Homo sapiens: one gene and its partner. The protein of the gene in region 1 purifies or fractionates together with the protein of each later gene. This does not show direct contact. Each region holds a gene or a part of one and is shown in the gene's direction. Other genes may lie near its edges.

What was found. The genes of interacting proteins can lie anywhere in the genome.
Region 2: the proteins of SYCE3 (region 1) and MAP3K15 purify together in Homo sapiens (affinity purification with mass spectrometry; 2 studies listed by BioGRID and IntAct, with this or other methods). This does not show direct contact.

Annotation. Positions count from the first base shown.
Region 1 is NC_000022.11:50,552,899-50,559,919, reverse strand, and holds part of SYCE3 (synaptonemal complex central element protein 3), read left to right. Parts: intron 1-3,514; coding exon 3,515-3,623; intron 3,624-7,021. UniProt on the Homo sapiens protein: Major component of the transverse central element of synaptonemal complexes (SCS), formed between homologous chromosomes during meiotic prophase.
Region 2 is NC_000023.11:19,512,509-19,520,001, reverse strand, and holds the start of MAP3K15 (mitogen-activated protein kinase kinase kinase 15), read left to right. Parts: upstream 1-4,493; 5' UTR 4,494-4,740; coding exon 4,741-5,101; intron 5,102-7,493. UniProt on the Homo sapiens protein: Serine/threonine kinase which acts as a component of the MAP kinase signal transduction pathway. Once activated, acts as an upstream activator of the p38 MAPK signal transduction cascade through the phosphorylation and activation of several MAP kinase kinases.

The DNA of each region.
Region 1 (7,021 bases):
GTGTTGCTCTGTCACCCAGGCTGGAGTGCAGTGGCATGATCTCGGCTCACTGCAACCTCCACCTTCTGGGTTCAAGGGATTCTTCTGCCTCAGCCTCCTGAGTAGCTGGGACTACAGGCGCCCGTCACCATGCCCAGCTAATTTTTGTATTTTTAGTAGAGATGGGGTTTTGCCATATTGGCCAGGCGGGTCTCGAACTCCTGACCTTGTGATCCCCCGCCTCTGCCTTCCAAAGTGCTGGGATTACAGGCATGACCGACTAAGCCTGGCGGCTACCTCCACTTCTAACACTCTGGTCCAAGCCTCATCATTCCTTACCTGGAGTTTTGCAGCTGCCTCCTAAATGATGTCCCTGTTCCATGCTTTCCACCCCTTAGTCTATTCTCAACACAGAAGCCAGAGTGATCCTTTTAAGTCATTATTCAAATCACATCACCTTTGTCAGATTTTTCCAGTGTTTCCTCATCTCATTCAGAATAAAAATCGAAGTTCTGGCCAGGCATAGTGGCTCACACCTGTAATCCCAGGACTTGGGAGGCCGAAGCAGGCGGATCACCTGAGGTTCAGGAGTTTGAGACCAGCCTGGCCAATATGGCGAAACCCCGTCTCTACTAAAAATACAAAAATTATCTGGGCATGGTGGCGGGCACCTGTAATCCCAGCTACTTGGAAGGCTGAGGCAGGAGAATTGCTTGAACCTGGGAGGCGGAGGTTGTGGTGAGCCGATATGACGCCACTGCACTCCAGCCTGGGCAACAGAGTGAGACTCCGTCTCAAGAAAAAAAAAAAAAGAGTGTGTAGTGAGAAGAGAAGGGGCTAAAAGGACCTTCCTTGACCCATTAGAGCCAGTAAAGGAGAGAGCCAAGAAAGAGCAGGGAAGGAACTACCACAGGTGGACAGAGTTTGGAGAGAACAAGGTTAAAACATCAAGAGAAGAGAATTTTGAGCAGGAGAAAATGGCCAAATGTCAGTGCTGCAGAGATGTTAAATAAAAGAAAGACAGAAAGTGCCCTGGGTGTGCCAGTTATGACTTTGGTGAGAGCATTGTCAGTGAATGTCAGAGACAGATGCCAGATGACAGTGGAGTGAGGAGGACAGACAAACGTGTGAGGCCTGGCTGCTAAAGGAAGGAGAGGGAATAGCTATAGGAGAGGGTTAAGGAAGGTGTTCTGGACATTTCTTCCTCCCATCACCCACTATTAGCCCCCTGCCCTGCCACCTGCCTGTACCTCCCCACTTACTCTTAGCAAACTATTCCTACTTACCAAAAAGCAGGACGGAGTCCCTGCACGTGGAATGGCTCCATGCCCACAGAAGTACCTCCTTTACAGATCCCGAAAGACCATACACCCTGACCCTGCACCCTCATTCTCAGATCTGCCTGTCAGGCCTCCTGGAGGGCCCTTTGCTCCTCCCTCAGAATCTCTACCCTTAACAGGGAGGACGGCAAGAGGGGAAAGATAATAATTTTCTTTCTTTTTTTTTTTTGAGATGAAGTTTCGCTCTTGTCACCCAGACTGGAGTGCAATGGCACAATCTCGGCTCACTGCAACCTCCACCTCCCGGGTTCAAGCGATTCTCCTGCCTCAGCCTCCCCAGTAATCCCAGTAGCTGGGATTAGGCACCTGCCGCCACACCCGGCTAATTTTTATATTTTTAGTAGAGACTGGGTTTCACCATGTTGGCCAGGCTGGTCCCAAACTCCTGACCTCAGGTGATCCACCCACCTCGGCCTCCCAAAGTGTTGGGATTACAGGCATGAGCCTCCGCGCTTGGCCACGATCATGATTTTCTTTCAGAATTAGAGCTTTACAATGGTCAACTCCTTTATTCAGCCAACATTTATTAAGCACTTGCTGTTTTCCTAGCTCTGAGCTGAACACTAGGAATAGTTCATTGGAAAGATGGCCTCTGCTTTCCAGGACCCCACAGTCTAGTTGGGGAGGTAGAGGAATCCACAATCACAATACCAGCTAAGAGGCACCGTGATGAGGGAGGCCCAGGAAGTCACAGGAGAACTGAGTGGAGGCCCTTAACTCTGAAGTAAAGACCAGGAAGGCTTTCCCCACATGTACAGTGGGAACAATACCGCAGCATCTGTGGCCCATCCCTCCCTGTTTTATGCTTACCTGGCTCATTCCTTCACCTTCATGAGGTTACAAGTTCCCTGGCAGCTCTTACATTATTTATCTATTTCTCTCTTTTCTTACTAGTGCCTTGTAGATAAATAGGTGAGCATCAAATATTAACAGAATGAATTAATGTATATTAATAAAGGTGAGGAGAGGATCTGGAGTGATGTAATTACTGTTCAACATTTTAAATAACAACGGATATGATTTATTAAGTGCTCATTACGGTAGGTACTGTGCTGAACAGTATATAATTTATTTCAATTAATCCTCACAAAACTCCACAAGATATAGGTAATACTAATAATTCCCGTTTAAAAAATACAAAACTTGGCTGGGTGTGGTGGCTCACATCTGTAATCTCAGCACTTTGGGAGGCCGAGGTGGATAGATCACCTGAGGTCAGGAGTTTGAGACCAGCCTGGCCAACATGGAGAAACCCCATCTCTACTAAAAATACAAAATTAGCCGGGCGTGGTGGCACTTGCCTGTAATCCCAGCTACTCAGGAGGCTGAGGCAGGAGAATCACTTGAACCCAGGAAGCAGAGGTTGTGGTGAGCCGAGATCGTGCCACTGTGCTCCAGCCTGGGCAACAAGAGCAAAACTTCGTCTCAAAAAAAAAAAAAAAACTCAAAAAAATTACCAAAAATTTGTCGAGAAGATGTGTAAGTTGCCAAAAGTAACACTGCTGATATGAGGTAGCGCCAAGATTTGAACCCAGGCAGCTCAATTCCAGAACCAGGACAGTCTCTATGGGGCACTGCCTCTAATGCCCAGGAGAATTCTTCTGGAAAGTTAAGTTGATTATAATTTTTTTTAATGTATGAATCATTTCATATTTTAAAATTAAACGTACCCGCCTCCAGGCTCCCATCGCTTGATGTCTGTAATTATTACATTAACTGCTTCGACATCTGTCACATCCTGGTTTGTCATATGGTGTGTGTGACTTACTCCCATATTGCACTAGAAATTCCTTAGGTACAGGAATTGTATCTTTGAAACACATCAGCACAATAGCTTGCATCTTAGTGGGTACTCAATATGGTTTTGCAAGAAAAAATTCCATGTCACCATTATGACAGACTTTTTTCATTATAATGAAGATGTTTTCTGTGTTAATGACTCCAGCCTTCAGCTACGTTTGTATGGCAAAGATGGAAGAAAGGGGAAGGACAACTTATATGTGCCGAATGCTATGCTGGGGCCTTTAGACATGTTCCCATTTAACCTTCACAACAGCCCTGTGGAGTACGTGGTATTGTCTGAATCTGAGAGATGGGGAAAGAATTCCTTAGAGAAATCACTGAGTTATAACCAGTGGAGCTGGATTTGAAATGTAGGTCTGTCTGACTGCAGCTTCTTTCTGTGCATTGCCTAGATGGATGATGCTGACCCTGAGGAAAGAAACTATGACAACATGCTGAAAATGCTGTCAGATCTGAATAAGGACTTGGAAAAGCTATTAGAAGAGATGGAGAAAATCTCAGGTAGGATGTGTGAACCCAAAAGTATCTGAGACAGGTCTCAATCAATTTAGAAAGTTTATTTTGCCAAGGTTAAAGATGCACCTGTGACACAGCCTCAGGAGGTCCTCAGGACATATGTTCAAGGTTGGCAGGGTACAGCTTGCTTTTATACATTTTAGGGAGAGAGAATACATCAGTCAGTACCTGTAAGATGTACACTGGTTCGGCCGGGCGCGGTGGCTCACTCCTGTAATCCCAGCACTTTGGGAGGCCGAGACGGGTGGATCACGAGGTCAGGAGATCGAGACCATCCTGGCTAACACAGTAAAACCTCGTCTCTACTAAAAATACAAAAAATTAGCTGGGTGTGGTGGCAGGCACCTGTAGTCCCAGCTACTCGGGAGGCTGAGGCAGGAGAATGGCATGAACCCGGGAGGTGGAGCTTGCAGTGAGCCGAGATGGTGCCACTGCACTCCAGCCTGGGCGACAGAGTGAGACTCTGTCTCAAAAAAAAAAAAAAAAAAGATGTACATTGGTTCGATCTGGAAAGGTGGGACAACTCAAAGGGGGATGATTCCAGGTTATAGATAGATTTAAATTTTTTCTGATTGGCAATTGGTTGAAAGAGTTATGGTCTAAAGACCTGGAATCAATAGAAAGGAATGTCTGGGTTATGACGGTAAGGGGTTGTGGAGACCAGAGTTTTATCATGCAGATGAAGCCTCCGGGTAGCAGGCTTCAGAGGGAATAGATTGTAAAAAGCTTTCTTATCAAACTTAAGGTCTGTGTTCATGTTAATGCTAGTCACCTTTTCCTGAATTCCAAAAGAGAGGCAGGTATAACGAGGCATACCCAATTTCTCCTTCTCCTCACGGCTTGAACCAACTTTGGCCAAGCAATACACCCACCTTGGCCTCCCAAAGTGTTGGGATTACAGGTATGAGCCAGCGTGCCTGGCCAAATAGCTTTTATTCACTAGAGCAGACTTTAGAAAATTTCTCCTTAGAAATGTTTGCAATTTTTTGCCTATGTACTTTTGAACTATGAATAGCTGAGACACGTATCAGTTAATTTAGAGAGTTTATTTTGCCAAGTTTGGGGACACTTATCTGTGACACAGCCTCAGGGGGTCCTAATGACATGTGCCCAAGGTGGTCAGAGCACAGCTTGGTTTTATTTATTTATTTATTTATTTTAAGACAGAGTCTCGCTCTGTCGCCCAGGCTGGAGTACAGTGGCGTGATCTCGGCTCACTGCAAGCTCCGCCTCCCGGGTTCATGCCATTCTCCTGCCTCAGCCTCCCGAGTAGCTGGGACTACAGGCGCCCGCCACCACGCCTGGCTAATTTTTTGTATTTTTAGTAGAGACGGGGTTTCACTGTGTTAGCCAGGATGGTCTTGATCTCCTGACCTCGTGATCCGCCCGTCTCGGCCTCCCAAAGTGCTGGGATTACAGGCGTAAACCACCGCGCCTGGCCTTGTATTTTTAATAGAGACAGGGTTTCACCATGTTGGCCAGGATAGTCTTGATCTCCTGACCTTGTGATCTGCCCGCCTCAGCCTCCCAAAGTCCTGGGATTACAGGTGTGAGCCACCGCGCCTGGCCTTTTTTTTTTTTTTTTTTTGAGACGGAGTCTTGCTCTGTCGTCCAGGCTTGAATGCAATGATGTGATCTCAGCTCACTGCAACCTCCGCCTCTCGGGTTCAAGTGATTCCCCTGCCTCAGCCTCCTGGGTAGGTGGGATTACAGGCGCCTGCCACCATGCCCAGCTAATTTTTGTATTTTTAGTAGAGACGAAGTTTCACCATTTTGGCCAGGCTGGTCTCAAACTCCTAACCTCAGGTGATCCACCTGCCTTGGCCTCCTGAAGTGCTGGGATTACACGCGTGAGCCACCACGCCCAGCCAGCAAACAGTTTTATGTAGTGAAAAATCTATCAATATTTTCCTTTCTGATTTATTGCCATTATTTTGACACCTAGAAAGTCTTTCCTCAATCTGAGATCAGTGAAATATTTAGTTGTATTTTCTTCTACTTTTCTCCGTATTCCTTTTTAACATTTAATCCTAACCCATCTGGCATGCCAAATGACCTACGCTGCGTATTGCTTTTTTTTTTTTTTTGAGACAGAGTCGCGCTCTGTTGCCCAGGCTGGAGTGCAGTGGCACAATCTCGGCTCACTGCAAGCTCTGCCTCCCGGGTTCACGCCATTCTCCTGCCTCAGCCTCCCGAGTAGCTGGGACTACAGGTGCCCGCCACCATGCATGGCTAATTTTTTTTGTATTTTTAGTAGAGATGGAGTTTCCCCGTGTTAGCCAGGATGGTCTCAATCTCTTGACCTCATAATCTGCCTGCCTTGGCCTCCCGAAGTGCTGGGATTACAGGAATGAGCCACCGCACCCAGCCGCATATTGCATTTTTATATAAATCTGCTACAGGCTGGGCACGGTGGCTCACACCTGTAAACCCAGCACTTTGGGAAGCCGAGGCAGGAGGATCACAAGGTCAGGAGTTTGAGACCAGCCTGGGCAATATGGTGAAACTCCATCTCTAATAAAAATACAAAAATTAGCTGGGCGTGTTGGTGGATGCCTGGAATCCCAGCTACTCAGGAGGCTGAGGCAGGAGAATCACTTGAACCCAGGAGACGGAACTTGCAGTGAGCCGAGATCATACCATTGCACTGCAGCCTGGGTGACGGAGCGAGACTCTCTCTTCTGTGATAGTCCCTGGGCATAGAGGGAGGGTGTTTGTATCGTTTTAGCAGCAGGGCATTTGCAGTGTAACAGATCCGGGCCCAGTGCGATGCCAAATGAGGGAGATTCATATCTTTGGTCATCTGCAGAATACCATGATTTTAGTTTCCTTGGAAGCAAAATGAGGGGAGATAAGTTTGACAATTATAAGAGTAATTTGTGCATTAGAACAGAAAAAGGAACCTATTCCATTAGGGCACCAACGAAAAATATGAGGAAAAGTTACAATCTGGTCCTCTCTAGAGGATTATTGTAGCCAAGAAACAATGATTTAATTTGCACTCAAAAAAACGTTATGGCTGGGCGCAGTGGCCTGTAATCCCAGCACTTTGGGATTTTATTTATTTATTTATTTATTTTGAGACAGGGTCATACTCTGTCACCCAAACTGGAGTGCAGTAGTGCAATCTTGGCTCACTGCAACCTCCACCTCCCAGGCTCAAGGGATCCTTTTTTTCATCTCAGCCTCCTGAGTAGTTGCAACTACAGGTGCACACCACCATGCCCAGCTAAATTTTGTATTTTCTGTAAAGACAGGGTTTCAACATGTTGCCCAGTCTGATCTCAAACTTCTGAGCTCAAGTGATCCACCCACCTCAGCCTCCCAAAGTGCTGGGATTATAGGTACCAGCCACCTTGCCCGGCCAGCCACCTTCTTGTATC
Region 2 (7,493 bases), on another chromosome or scaffold:
TTGGAACCAGTGGGTGTGGCCAGGCACAGTACCTCACAACTGTAATCCCGGCACTATGGGAGGCGGAGGTGGGAGGATTGCTTGAGCCCGAGAGTTTGAGACCAGCCTGGCCAACATGGCAAGAACCCATCTCTACAGAAACAATTAGCCAGGTATGGTGGCATACACCTGTGACCCCAGGTACTTGGGAGGCTGAGGCGGGAGGATTGCTTGAGCCCAGACCAGAAGGTCAAGGCTGCAGTAAGCCATGATCACACCACTGCACTCCAGCCTGGGCAACAGAGCAAGGCCCTGTCTGAAAAAAAAAAAAAAAATAGTGGGTAGCACTCACAAAGGGATTTCCTCTAAATATATGGAAGAGGTCAGGCATGGTGGCTCATGTCTGTAATCCCAACACTTTGAGAGGCCAAGGCAGGAGGATTGCTTGAGCCCAGGATTTGGAGACCAGTCTGTGCAACATAGTGAGACATCATCTCTACAAAAAAAATAAAAAAATGTGGTAGGAGGATTGTTTGAGCACAGGAGGTTGAGGCTGCAATGAGCTGTGATCGCGCCACTGCACTCCTGCCTGGGTGACAAAGCAAGACCCTGCCTCAAAAAAAAAAAAAAAAAAAAAAAATTAAATATATGGAAGAACTTTCCATGATACCTCTACATTAGGACAAAGTTGTTTCCAGGGCATGTACTTAATAAGGGGCAAGGCAAAGGTAAGAACAAGACAGTTGTTCAATTAAACAGAAGAAACGAATCCAGCATTTTGCAATTTTCTTCTCAGTGGGGCTGGGGGGAGGTAGGAAGGACATTGGGGGAAGGGGCCAGGGCATGCTTCAGGTGTGCAAATTGCTACACACAATGAGAAGGTGGGCTGTGTGTCCCAACTTCAGGGAAGGTGCTCGTTAGCTGGGTAAATGCTGCGCTCTCAGCATTTACTCAGCAGGGTTTGTATTTAGAGGAAGCTCTTATTCAAGCCAGAATTCACAGCTCCCGTGGGTCTCACTCCATCAGCAGGGCCCCAGTGAGAGCTGAGAGGAATTCGGGAAGATTGTGATGGGGACAACAGCAAGATGCTGGCAAGGGATTTTAAGTGGGCATCTTTGCCCTTCTGAAGGCTGTGGCAGTCCCTGGAATAATTCCAGATGAACAGGCATATTAGGAAAATTACTATTATTATGCATTACAACGTTACAAAGAATACATGTGTCCTTTTATAGCATCATACAAAAAATGTCTTAGAACAAGGTGTGGAGAGTTTTTCTGAGCTTTCCTGCTTCCCAGCCTGGTCTGTGTGTTCTCACAGATTTCCTCAGAACCCATTTTCCATTCGTTGACCACAGACGAGGATGCACATGGAAGCTGCTTGTGATTTCCGCCAGGGCTGGAACGAGGGCAGGATTTCTTCATGGATTTATACAGATAGTTTCTGCTTTCTTTGGGGGTGGGAGGTGGACTGTATTAGTACTGAAGCATGCAAAGAAGCTGAAATGTTTTATAAGTCCTATCCTGCACGTGTCAAAATGGCTTGTGATGTGCTGCCAAGGACACCCTCAAGAAAGTAAAAAGACAGCTCACAGAATGGAAGAAGATATTTGCAAATCACATATCTGATAAGGAACTTCTATCCACAATATGTAGAGGATTCTTACAACTCAATAATAAAAAGACAAATACTCAATTAAAAAATGGGCAAAGGATTTGAATAGACATCACTCAGAAGTTGTTATACAAATGGCCAATAATTAACACATGACAAGATGCCCAGTGTCATTATCCATCAGGGAAATAGAAATCAAAACCATCATGAAGTACAATTTCACACCTGCTAGGATGGTCATAATCCAAAAACAATAACAAGTGTTGGTGAAGATGCAGGGAAATTGGAACACTGCTGGTTGGTGAGAATGGAAAACGGTGCAGCCACTTTGGAAAACCGTGGAAATTTCTCCAAAGGTTAAACACAGAGGTAAGCCTGGTGTGGTGGCTCACACTTGTAATCCCAGTGCTTTGGGAGGCCGAGGTAGGAGCCAGGAGTTCGAGACCAGCTTGAACAAGATAGTGAGACCCCATCTCTATAAAAACGTTTTCTAAAAAAAACTGTAGAGTTAGCATGTGACCCAGAAATCCTGCTCCGGTATATGCTCAAAAACCTATGTCCACACATTGCATGATTCCATTTGTATGAAATGTCCAGAATAGGCAAATCTACAGAGATGGTAGACTTATGGTTACCTAGAGCTGGGGATGTTGGGAAGGAGGGAGAGTGGTTTCTAATGGGTACTGATTGATTTTTGCACTGGGGCGTGGGGTGATGAAAATGTTGTATAACTCATTATGGCCATAGCTGCACAACGCTGTGGATATACTAAAAACTTTCATTGAATCGTACCCTCTAAATGGGTGAATTGTATGGTATGTGAATGATAGCTCAATAAAGCTGTTATTAAAAAAGAGAAAACCTTTGGGTATAAGCCCAGTAACGGGATTGCTGGGTGGAATGTTATTTCCATTATAAGGTCTTTGAGGAATTGCCACACTGTCTTCCACAATGGTTGAACTAATTTCCACTCCCACTAACAGTGTATAAATGTTTCTTTTCCTCCACAGCCTCGCCACCATCTGTTATTTTTTGACTTTTTAATAATAGCCATTCTGACTGGTGTGAGATGGTATCTAGTTGTGGTTTTGATTTGCATTTCTCTAATGATCAGTGATGTTGAGGCTTTTCTTTCATATGATTGTTGGCCACATGTATGTCTTCTTTTGAAGAGTGTCTGTTCATGTCCTTTGCCCACTTTTTAATGGGGCTGTTTGTTGTTTTCTTGTAAATTTAAGTTATTTATAGATGCTGGATATTAGACCTTTGTCAGATGCATAGTTTGCAAAAATTTTCTCCCATTCTGTAGGTTGTTTGTTCACTCTGTTGACACATACATGTGTATGTTCATTGCAGCACTATTCACAATAGCCAAGACATGAAATCAATCTAAATGCTCATCAATGGTAGATTGAATAAAGAAAATGTGGTACATACACACCATGGAATACTATGCAGCCATAAAAAAGAATGAGATCATGTCCTTTGCAGGAACATGGATGGAGCTGGAGGCCATTATTCTTAGCAAACAAATGCAGAAACAGAAAACCAAATGCCCCATGTTCTTACTCATAAGTGGGAGCTAAATGATGAGAACACATGGACACATGGAGGGGAACAACACACACTGTGGCCTATCAGAGGGTGAAGGGTGGGAGGAAGGAGAGGATCAGGAAAAATAACTAATGGGTACTAGCCTTAATGCCTGGGTGATGAAATAATCTATACAACACACCCCAATGACACAAGTTTACCTGTGTAACAAACCTGCACATATACCCCTGAACTTAAATGAAAAACAACAGATTGTATTCCATAAATATATACAATTATTTGTCAATTAAAAATAAAGTTTAAAAATAATATTGCAATTGAAAAAAGAAAAACCTCCAAGTCTGTGACAGCGTCCGGTGCATTCTATCTTTTAGAAAACAATGACCCAGGTGCGGTGGCTCACGCCTGTAATCCTAGCACTTGGAGAGGCTGAGGCGGGCGGGTCGCTTGAACTCGGGAATTCGACAGCAGCCTGGCCAACATAGTGAAACCCCGTCTCTACTAAAAATACAAAAAAAAAAAAAAAAAAAAAAAAATTAGCCGGACATGGTGAGGTGCGTGCCTGTAATCCCAGCTACTCTGAAGGCTGAGGTGGGAGGATCGCTTGAGCCCCGAGAAGCAGAGGTTGTAGTGAGCCTAGAGCAGAGATCGCGCCACTGCACTCCAGCCTGGGCGATAGCGACAGACTTTGTCTCAAAAAAGATAAAAAATAAGAATAATGGTATTACCCTCAGTGGTAACACTATTTTCTTTTAATATTTGTGTCCAAATTCGTGAAGTGCCTAAGATCCGAGTGAGGGCCCCTTTGAGTTCACGGCATTTTCAAAGGTCAGGCAGGCAGCGTACTTGGAGTCTATCTTCCAGACAAAATTTGTTGCTGGTGCCTCCCTGTGCCTTGTCAAGGTCACGGCGAAAGCCAGGACGAGCTCGCCTCCGGCACAGGGCTCACGGGGGGCCGTGCGCTTGGCAACCAGGGATGAAGCATCCGTTCATCCCAATGCCGGGTGAAAACTATTAATACGTCTGTATTGAGTTGGGAATAGAACATTTCCATCCAACCGATGCTTTGAAAGAGTTTTTACCCTGCTCGAATGCTTCAAGTTGTTTTGAGAAAAAAGAAATTGGAGCTCCTAATGGTGGTCAGGCTAGAGGGATGGCCAAAACAAAAAACAAAAAACAAAACAAAAAAAAAAACAACCCCAATTCCTGTTCCCGTGTTCGGCGTCTCCCGGCTGCGGGCGGGCGCTGCCTGGAGGGGGCAGCAGGGGGCACCCTCCCCGCTCCTGCCCCGCCGCCCTCCCCGGCCCCCTCCCCGCCCCTCGCTCGCCCTGACGTCCCCAGCCCCCGCCTCTTTCTCTCCGGCCTTCAAAGGGCGCTGGGGGCCTTGGGGCCTGAGCGTCAGGCTGCAGCCTAGGGGTACTGCCGTCTTCGGCCCGCCGCGGGGTCCCCGGTGCGCTCCGTTCCCTCGATTCCCGTAGCGTCCCGCGCTTCAGGAGCAGGTGCCGGGACCGCCTGCGCGGCTGCTGTAACTTGTGCCTCCTAGCGGATCGCAGCCGCTGGCCACTCGCCCAGGGGAAGGGCGCGCAGGCGGGCACATGGAGAGCGGCGGTGGGAATGCTCCGGCCGGGGCCCTCGGGGCGGCGAGCGAGTCCCCTCAGTGCCCGCCGCCGCCGGGGGTGGAGGGCGCGGCCGGGCCGGCGGAGCCCGACGGGGCGGCGGAGGGCGCGGCAGGCGGCAGCGGCGAGGGCGAGAGTGGGGGCGGGCCGCGGCGGGCTCTGCGGGCAGTATACGTGCGCAGTGAGAGCTCCCAGGGCGGCGCGGCCGGCGGCCCGGAGGCTGGGGCGCGGCAGTGCCTGCTGCGGGCCTGCGAGGCCGAGGGCGCTCACCTCACCTCCGTGCCCTTCGGGGAGCTGGACTTCGGGGAGACGGCCGTGCTCGACGCCTTCTACGACGCAGGTGAGAGCGGCTTCGTCCCCACCTCAGTCCCAGTTCACCTACCCTCACACGAGCCAGGGCACCCGCCCCGCCCCCTCGCCCTTCTCCCCCGTCCCCCTCCCCCTCGTCCCCCTCCCCTCCCCCTCGTCCCCCTCCCCTCCCCCTCGTCCCCCTCCCCTCCCCCTAGTCCCCCTCCCCTCCCCCAGTCCCCCTCGTCTCTAGTCCCCCTCCCCTTATCCCCCTCCCCTTATCCCCCTCCCCCAGTCCCCCCTCCCGCAGGCCCCCCTCCCCTTAGTCCCCTCTCCCCTTAGTCTCCCTCCCCTTAGTCCACCTCCCCTTCCCCTAGTCCCCTTCCTCTCATCCCCCTCCCCTTAGCCCCCCTCCTATCCTCTCACCCCCTGATCCGTCCAACAGGACCGTCCTGCCTTTGGGGGAGGGTAGAGTCTTTAACATTGTGCCCTTTTACAGATAAGAAAATAGAGGCCACGGGCATTTAGACTCTTTGATTCTTCAGGCATCTTAAACATCAGATAACCCAAGAAACAGCCTGTAACCCAGACCCTACCAAGCCCCCCTTCTCCCAAGTTATCCAACTTTTGCTTTCTCATTCCTGGAAGGTCTCTTACGGCCGTGGGTCCCAACGCAGGCTACATATTAGAATCACCTGGGGAGCTTTTAAAACTCTGGGTGCCCAGATCGGACCCCAGACCAATGACATAAGCACCCGAGGCCTTAGAAGTGTCATGCTTCCCAGGCGATTCCATTTTGCAGCCAGGAGTGGAAATCGGTGTCTTACGTGTGTGTGTGTTGCCTCTACTTAGAAATACCCAGTGTTCTTTTGCACACTTCAATTCTCGTCCCCAAAACACTGACGGTGGAGTGTGAGCCACCACCCTGTGACGTATATTTTATCCCATAATGCACAGCATTCACGGGTTAGGGGGCACCTTTGCTGGAGTGGGACTCTAGGTCTCTAAACTCACTATAATAAATGTGCCTGAGAATCCAGCCTTAAGAAGCGTACTTTGGATTGGCAAGAGTTTCTCTCGGTGTGGAATGAATTGTTGCTTGACGTTTTTTCCCTTACAGCACCTTTGGTGACAAACCTCTGTCACCTGGGTGACGTTCAGAAGCATTATATGTGAGACAGTAATTACCTGGGAGTCCTTGTGCCTCAGTTTCTGGTCAAAGGGAGTTAACAGTGCCTACCCTAAACCTAAAAGCTGATGAGATAGGATATGGGAAGTTGCTTTGCTGTAATAGTAAGCTAGGATGATTAGGATTCAGCCTCTGCTGGAGGCAGCGCAGATCTGTTTTTCTTGCAGAGCAAATTCTCCCCAGCTGGAAGGGCGGGGTAGGGGGGGAGTCAGGCTTGTTTAAACAAGTGGCAGCTGGACCCATTGAAAGCACTCTCCTGACATTTCTGACCACACTGAGTATACTCTTCAGCACAACATCTTTTTAGAAAAGTCGTTCAGGAGTCCACTTCACCTAGAACCACTCCGTTTTCTCAACTTGTATTCATTCTGCTCCAAAATTGGAGTTTGAACAGACTCTTCTCTGAACGGTTAAATGTTCCTTTTGCCATGAGGCACAACACTCTCCTTCCTGCTGGTGCCACCTCTGAAAGATTTGTGTGCGGTGGCTTTTGCTTTCCCTGGGGCGGAGTGTGTGTGTACGGGGGGCCCTTCTAACAGGTCGACTGTGAAGATGCAGACGTCAAATCTCAGGCTTTCAATTCTGGAGCCACACAACAGACACGTCACCTTGGCTCACTCTGGCCTGGGTGGCCTAGAATGTTGGGCTGTACCACGAGCTCCCTTTGGTTAACCTTGTCCTGGTCTTGAGTAAATCATTTCTCAGTGCATTAGAATTGCTTTCAGAGGTTTGAGAAAGTACATACACAGTAAGTGGGTTCCTGGGCTAAACAGATGAGCACCTCCACTGTCTCCTGGATTCGTCCTCCATCACTCACTGCTTTTTGATGTTTCCACCAAAAAAGATACAGAGCTCTCACTTTGGCTTCTTTGTAAAAATTCTAAAACCACTCTGTCCAATTTGGTAGCCACTAGCCACAGGTGGCTCTTGACAGTTAAACTGATTAGAATACGGTAAAAATGGTAAGATCCTTAGTTGCACTAGTGGCATTTAAGGCGCTTGATAGGCCAGGTGCAGTGGCTCACGCCTGTAATCCCAGCCCTTTGGAAGGCCAAGGCGGGAGGATTGCTTGAGTACAGGAGTTCAAGACCAACCTGAGCAAAAAAAAAAAAAAAAAAAAAGCAGGATGTGGTGGCACCCATGTGCCTGTGGTCCCAGCTACCTGGGAGGTGGAGGCAGGAGGATCACTTAAGCCCGGGAGGTCGATGCTGCGGTGACCTGTGTTTATGCCACTGCACTCCAGCCTGGGTGACAG